2 linked regions of the Homo sapiens genome follow. The protein of the gene in region 1 purifies or fractionates together with the protein of each later gene. This does not show direct contact. Each region holds a gene or a part of one and is shown on either strand. Other genes may lie near its edges. The genes, in order: WDR49 and ARHGAP17.

Region 1 (3,916 bases):
GGATCAGAATCATGCAGTGTTTCAGATCTAGGAGTCAGATTTCCTGAGCTTAAATCCCGGCTTTGCTACTTACAATGTGACTCTGTGCAAATACTTAATCTCTCTGGGCCTCAGTTTCCTTTATTTCTAACATGAGGATAACAGAGCTTTCATGAAGATTAGAGGAGGTACTATCTGGAAAGCACTTTAAAAAGTGCATGCCACAGAGAGTAAGTGCTCAATTAACATTAGATAATTGAGCTAATTATCTCATTTAGTAAGTAGAAGTTAAACCATGTGACCTCTGACAGTGCCTTGATTCTAATTCATACTTTTCTTAAAGGAAATTAAACTTCAAGTGACACTTGCTGCTATGCGTCTTCATTCCTATTAGTTGTGGAAGGAAGTGGTTAGAGCTGCAAAGACATAAATTCACATAGAAGAGTCAAAAGCATAATTGTTCTATCTCTCATTTCATATTTTCTTAGCAGGCAAAAATTCTAATTGACGTCTTGATTCTTTTCTTTGGAACAAATAAGTTACCTGGGTAGAAGCACAGAAAAGTAACTTGTGGATTTCATTTTCCTTTAAGTGATGGTGTCAAAAGAGCCATATATCAGCCTGAAGGGAGAGAAACTTGCATTATTCATAGAATCGTAAAATGGTTGTTACTCAAACTTCCCTGTAGCACTTACAATACTTAGAGAAATGACATGGTCTCTGGATGCTCATATTATTTTGATGTCAACCATATTTTACATTTTCTTTGAAACTCCAAAAGCCAACTATTGTTTGAGGAAGAGTAGCTGTGGTTTGCTGATTTTATAGGAGTGGTGAGAAGTAAAAATTTTGGTCTAAGGAAAATGGAACTTTGGGAAAGCCATGGAGCTTGATATTTATTGAGCTTCTCCTGAGAGTCTGGCTATGTAGGTTCTGAGTGTTTCTTTTTTTACATTCTCCATTGTTGATCTCTGTATGTCAATGATGGTTTAACATTGGACCTTGATCCTAGATTAATTGCTGCCCGTTTGGTCTGAGACCATAGTTTGCCCTGTGCTCCTGGGCTCTCCAGGTTAGGTCCTGAACTGCCTTTATCAGCAACTGTGTCTATATCTTCTCCTGGCACACCTGTTCTGGCCTGACTGTAAGCTGAGAGCTGGAGGCTGGCTTTACCCTGTCAGCTCCATGCTATCATTTGCCCAAGCCCTACTAAATCTTTAGCTTTAACTATACCTAGAAGCCACATGTAAAATGTGAGGTATTTATCCTTAAAGTAGGAAGGGCCAAATAGTTTTAGTGTAAGAAAGGCACAGTAAAAATCCTAGCAAGACTGCCCCAGAGACTGTGTGGTGAGAATTCTTAAAACAAATCTGTCTTGGAGGTGAATGAGATCTAAACACAATGCACTTATTCAAACTGAATCTCAAAAGACTGGAGAAGTTCAGTAGTCAATTCTGCAAGTTCTAGAATTGTGCTTAACGGGTAATACAATTACATTTAAAGAATTTTGATATTCTCATCCTTGATTATCTTTATAAAATTCCCAAAACACCTCAACAGTATCTTGGGGATTTTAGAAAGCATTCTACAGCAGGGTCTATGAACTGTGCTTGTTTGCTTCAAGACAAAGCTGAGGATGTTGATGTCCTGCCAGGCAAGCTAGGCTCTACAGGAATATAGAAAGTCAGATTGGGCCTTTTCTTACCTTTTTTTTAACTTGTCCTTCTTTCTAAACTGTCAAGCTTCCTCCAAATTTATGGAGGACCCATCCTTCTCTAGGCCTTCTCATTGCCCATTGTACCTTCACTACTAAGGTACCCAAATGAACAGGTCTTCCTAGACGTGTCTCATACTCCAAAACTATTCTTATATCTTCCTTCTTGCCTTTCTACCCAGGCACCACCATCCCAAACACATAAATAAAATTACTCATTTTTGTTTCACTCCCTTTCCCCAGAACCTTTAGATGTTCTTATCTCTGATAAAATGAGATGGTCCATAAAGTTCATTTAAAATTTTTTCTTAGATAAAACTGTTAAGGTATAAAGTTGGATATTATGCTATCCAACAATGCTGAGAATTAGAAAATATTTTTTATAGTGTATGCAAACTGTGTAAAATATATAATATCTGCAACATGACAGAGGTATTATTTCCTGTTCACATAAAGTAAAAAGCAGGTATTTCTAATGGGTAAGCAGTTGCAAGCAAGGATTCAGGTCTCAGGCTGTCCCCACCTTCCGCCTTCTACACAAGCCATACATCAGCTGGTAGCAGTGGAGAGCACTAGGGAATGTTTTCTGTGGTCCAGCTCACATCCCATTGGCCAGCACTCAGTCATATGGCTACAGGTAACTTCAAGTTACTTCAAGTCGTATGGCAAGTAGGGACAGCTGTGTGCCCAGATAATGATCTCACCCATGGTCCTCTTAGAATTTTGTGGGAGGAAAATTTCCTTCTCTCCTAATGAACCAGCATGCTTCAGTTTGTAAATTATGGAGACCTTTGTGTCTAATTGTATTTTGTGTTCTGTCTTAGCTGCCAGGAAGTTCAAAGCTAAATTTAGTGTTCAACTCTTACAACTATGCTTAACTTAGGTTTTCTGGGACAATAATCTGCTATTTTATTATATAATTCTTGTTCTTTTATCTTTGTTTTAATAGTCGGTCCTATTGCCTATGTATCTTCTGTTGTAACTGAACTAAAATTCTTTCTGGAAATCAGTGTAGGTAAAAATGATGAATAAAAATTGAATACCTTTCAAGTATAGTAAGATTTTATAAAGCACTTATGTTGGCATCATGTTATTTGATCCTTTACCAGCCTGAAACATAGGCACGGCATAAATTTTTACTTCCCATTTACAAATAAGGAGATGAAGGACTAAAAATATTCAATTGAATTCTCCCATGGGCAGAGCCAGAACTCAGAGGCAGATTGTCAACTTTGGAGTCCATATATGGCATGATTTCCACTGGCCACAAGATAACCTTCCTTTGGCATGTTGCTCTAAGGAACATGAATCCAACAGGATAAAGATTTCCTAAACAAAATGCATGTTAAGTTAATAGTGCACAGGCCCTGTGCTCTGCTAACTTGGAACTAACGCATAATCAGCAAATAATCAACAACTGCTACAATGAAATCAAGGTAGAGAAAGGGTGGAAGAATGAAAAGAAGATAATAACCAATTGCTTTTTTGAAAAATATTTTTTTCTTTCTAAAGGCATCTCAGTGGAGACTTGTGAGAAGGTAAACAGGTGAAGCTTAGTCTCACCTGTATATAGTAAAAAGTGCATTCTGCAGCCTCAGTCAATTCATCATCTGCTGAACAAAGACAGCAGGTCATACCATTTCTCACGCATTGCTCTTAGTGCAATCAAAATACCTATTTTTAATGGCAGCAGAAAACATTAAGGTGATAGCATGAAGACAAATCCAATACTACTGCAGTTGGCACAATTAGAAATGGCAGAGGAATTCTGTGGTGGTTTTATCTGATTTGTTAAAATTCATGAATAATGCTAGCAAATGGCGTCATCACCAAAACTCAAGGAAGTGAAGTTGTATCTCACTACAAATGAAAAATTTGCCTTCCAAATCCTGCTGCCTTTGTGCTGATTTTTGTGACAAGTTCTAACAGCTTCCTGCCTTTTCAAACTCTCTGTGTACTTTTACAACAGGCACTTACAAAAATTAATCTGGATCAGTGTGTGATGAAGAGTGCCTTTAGTAAACAAGTGGTTTAACCTTGAGTGTTGGCCAAAACTGGAGAAGTGAAGACAACCAAGAAAAGCTTGTTACAGAGGAGGGAGGGAGAAAGAAAGCAAAGATGTCTACTGCTGTTCATGTGTAGTGCATCAGCTTAGCCAGACTTGTGAACTAAGGGCACTGCTACTTTTGAAATTTTCCTGAGAGTTAAACAAGAAAAATGAAT
Region 2 (3,916 bases), on another chromosome or scaffold:
GGCAAGGTGGCTCACGCTTGTAGTCCCAGAACTTTGGGAGGCCAAGGCAGGCAGATCAGTTGAGGCCAGGAGTTCGAGACCACCCTAGGCAACATGGCAAATCCCCACTCTACAAAAAATACAAAAATTAGCGGATGTGGTGGTGCCCACCTGTAGTTCCAACCACATAGGTGGCTGAGGCGAGAGGGTCGCTTGAGCCCAGGGAAGTCAAGGCTGCAATGAGACAAGATCGCACCACTGCACCCCAGCTTGGGTGACAAAGGGAGACCCTGTCTCAAAAAAAAAAAAAAGTGTGAAGGGAGAAGCCTCTAAGATGACCCAGGAGTCAAAGAGACCCTAAATAGCTTGGTAGATTTAAGTCTCAGAACTTTGTATAAAAAGAGTGAAAGTCCCTTACCTGTCACGAACAATGTAAAAACAAGCCAAACGACTATTTGACAAATGTATCTTGGCACTTACTAAATACTAGTTCCACAATGCACGTTGCTCAGAACACTAACAAGGGTACGAAACTCACAAGAAATTATCATGTGCTTGTAAACTGTTCCTTGAAACATCAGCCGCCATTACCACACGTCTACCTTCCTCTCAGCATTATTTCTTTAATTTTCCTGCAAATAACAGAAAAGTAGGTTTGTCTGGGCTTTAGGGGCAGCGATTAACCCTGAAAATAAGAGTTAATTCTCACCACAATAATACGGTAGGGAATCGAAAAAATTAAACAAGGAAACTAAGCAAAAAGATGGAGGAAATGAAACAGTAAAAAGCAAATTTAGAAAACTCGAGAGGAAGTAAAAGTATTTTCATACACTCAAAAAAAAGAAGTGTCCCACGTGCTTCAGCCAAACCAAACTCCCCTTAACTGTTAAAAACAGAAAATCAAAAGAAGAGCTGTGAGAAATTCATACTTTCGTATCTCTTTGCTGAATAAACACTAAATCGGTACAGTACAGCCAGCTGCCCTGAAAGACCTTGAAATATTAGCCCCAGATAATACAGCACATGACAGTCACCTCCAGAAACTCTCAAAAACCACAAATCATTTCTTGTTCTGACAACCTGATCTACCAACTCTGGTCTAGCCTGCCATTTAATAATCAATAACGTTTCTTGTTAAGCACTTCAACCGTAGCAAAGGAAGATAAAGAAGCATTTGTTTCCAAACCTAAGGTGAGACTTTTTAAATTGGCGCAAGGCGTCTCCATAATCCTTTTCCGCCAATTCCTAATTTCTAAATGTCAAGAACTGGCAGCAGCAGTCCAGTTCCTAGGAGCCCTGGTTTTGAGACAGCACCACCTCCGAATTCCCTCAAAGGGCGTTCTGAACTCACTGAGCAAATCCGGCTGGCTTTCATGTCCCTCTAGCCATTTCTTGCCGCCATGCACTTACAGGAGAAGGACTCGCAAACAGCGGGAGCACCGGGAAAGCCTGGGACTGCCGCCCCCCACAGCACAGCGCTCGGCACAGCGTTAGGGACAGAAGTCACCGTTGTTGAGCCCAGGGCAGCGATCCCAGCTGGCTCGGCCCCCGGGAAGGGAGGAGAAGGACCGGGTCTACTCCCCGAGGGCGATGCTCCCGGGGCAGGGACAATGGGCAGGGGACCCCGCGGTGTGGCGGAGGAGGCGGCGGCCCTCCCCTGCAGGTCTCGGGAGCCCGGCGGCGCTGAGAGACAGGCGGGCCGCCTGGAGCGCGGCGCTCGGGCCTCAGCGCGGCGCAGCCCCCGGGCCCGTGCCCCGCTGGTCTCGGGCAGGGGCTGCGGCCCAGCTCAGAGCCGCCGGACCGCGGAGGAGCCGTCCCGCCCCCGCGCCCTCCGCCCTCCGCCCCCAGCCCCGGTGCGACCCCCGTGCTGCCCGGCGCACTCGCCTGCCCACGGTCTGGTTAGCCAGCTGCTTCATGCGGTTGAACTGCTTCTTCATGGCGGCGGTGGCGGCGGCGGCCCGCGGGGCTCGGGCCGGGCAGGGCGGGGGACAGCCTGGCAGCTACTACATCGCTTCCCGGCCCAAACGGCGGCGCGGCGGTGGCTCCCCGGGCCGGCGGCCCCGCCCTCGCCTCGTCACTTCCAGTGGCACCGCCCGCCCGCCCTCTAGGTCTGGCCGAGCCGAGCTGAGCCCGAGTAGAGCCGAGTCGAACCGAGCCGAGGCTAACAGTGCCTTACCTGACACGGGCGAAGAGCTAGAAGGCCCCGGGCGAGAAGACCACTAGGCCTCCTCCGCCTGGCCTCCCCGACCCCAACGCTGCCCGGTCACCCTCTCGTTTATTTCAACGTATGAAAAGCTGTTTCTAGCAGGGCGCAGTGGTTCAACGTTGTAATCTCAGCACTTTGGGAGGCCGAGGGGGCAGATCACTTGAGCTCGGGAGTTCGAGAGCAGCCTGGCCAACACGGTGAAATCCTGTCTCTACTAACAATACAAATTTAGCTGGGCGTGGTGGTGGACGCCTGTAATCCCAGCTACTCAGGAGGCTGAAGCAGGAGAACGGCTTTTACCCGAAAGGCAGAGGTTGCAGTGAGCCGAGATGGCGCCACTGCACTCCAGCCTGGGCAACAGAGTGAGAGACCCTGTCTCGAAAAAAAAAAAAAAAAAAAAAATTAAAGTCAATGTGTGTTTTCCTTAACACACGTGCTCACACACTCATGTCTTCCTGGTTTGGTGGCCTTGGCTCCAGGTAAGCCCCTTCTTTGCATTGGATGGGCAGCAATGTGGCTTCTTTCATCAGCCACATCTCAAATGTGCTCCTAAATGTCATAGAAAAAGGAAAGAGCTCCCTAACTATGGGATAAAGGAGACTGATGCCAGTTTGGAATTCTTAATATCAAAGAATGAGGGACTTCAAGATCTTTTTAGTGACCTAGGAGAGACCTAGGAAGCATCAGAGCTTCAGATAGGGCAGCAAACTAAAAGTTATCGACATCAATTACAACAGAAAGAGGTAGAAATGAGCCTTCCTAAAACAAGAAAGCAAGCACTACAGGATCGGTTGCAGGACCGGCAGCCAGCCCTGGAGTCAGCACATTCAGGGAAGGCCGGAGGTTCCCATCCACACTGCATCCCCTCCATTCCATGTGGTACCCATCATGCTTCAGTGTTCCACGACGCTTACATGGGTTTTTATGACATAATTTCATCATAACAAGAAATAAACAGATAGTCCAATGAAGTTCTAAAACTTGAGTCTCCAGTTGGCCATTGGAAATGTATTGCTCAGACTTATAAAATAGGAGGAACAACTAGTTTTGATGAAAATGAAATCTACAAACTACAAACACCAAATATTAATATCATCAAGGAGCTCAAACAAAAAAGAAGTCAGGATACTGATGACCATCAGCTTGAATTATCAGTATTACAGAATGTTCATCAACAGAAATTGAGGGAAATAAGTTGTAAGCATCAAGAAAATCTAAGCAATTAGGAAGAAAAGATTGAAGAACTGGAAAATTTGTTACAGCAAGGTGGCTCAGGAATTACAGTACATGATCTCTCTAAACTTCAAGAGAAGGAAAACACTATTCATGCAAGCTCTACAAATTGAAAAAGTAGAGTCTACCAAAAAATTGAAGAATTTGAACATAGAGTAAAAGACAAATAAAAAATTATCTTCTGGGGCCAGGTGCAGTGGCTCACACCTGTAATCCTAGCACTTTGGGAGGTCAAGATGGGAAGATCACTTGAGCTCAGGAGTATGAGACTAGCCTGGACAACATACTAAAACCTCATCTCTATGAAAAATTTAAAAAAAAAAAAAAGGCCAGAAGCAGTGGCATGCACCTGTACTCCCAACTAGTTGAAAGGCTGAGGCAACAGGATCATTTGAGCCCAGGAATTTGAGGCTGCAGTGAGCTATTATCACACCATTGCACTCTTGTCTGGGTGACAGAGTGAGACCCCTAGCTGAAAAGAGGCTATTGGAAGAAACA

What was found.
Region 2: the proteins of WDR49 (region 1) and ARHGAP17 purify together in Homo sapiens (affinity purification with mass spectrometry, with the first as the bait; 2 studies listed by BioGRID). This does not show direct contact.

Annotation. Positions count from the first base shown.
Region 1 is NC_000003.12:167,647,090-167,651,005, reverse strand, and holds part of WDR49 (cilia- and flagella-associated protein 337), read left to right. Parts: intron 1-3,916.
Region 2 is NC_000016.10:25,013,346-25,017,261, forward strand, and holds the start of ARHGAP17 (rho GTPase-activating protein 17), read right to left. Parts: upstream 2,025-3,916; 5' UTR 1,917-2,024; coding exon 1,864-1,916; intron 1,534-1,863; exon of another isoform or gene 1,331-1,533; intron 1,284-1,330; exon of another isoform or gene 568-1,283; coding exon of another isoform or gene 518-567; intron 1-517. UniProt on the Homo sapiens protein: Rho GTPase-activating protein involved in the maintenance of tight junction by regulating the activity of CDC42, thereby playing a central role in apical polarity of epithelial cells.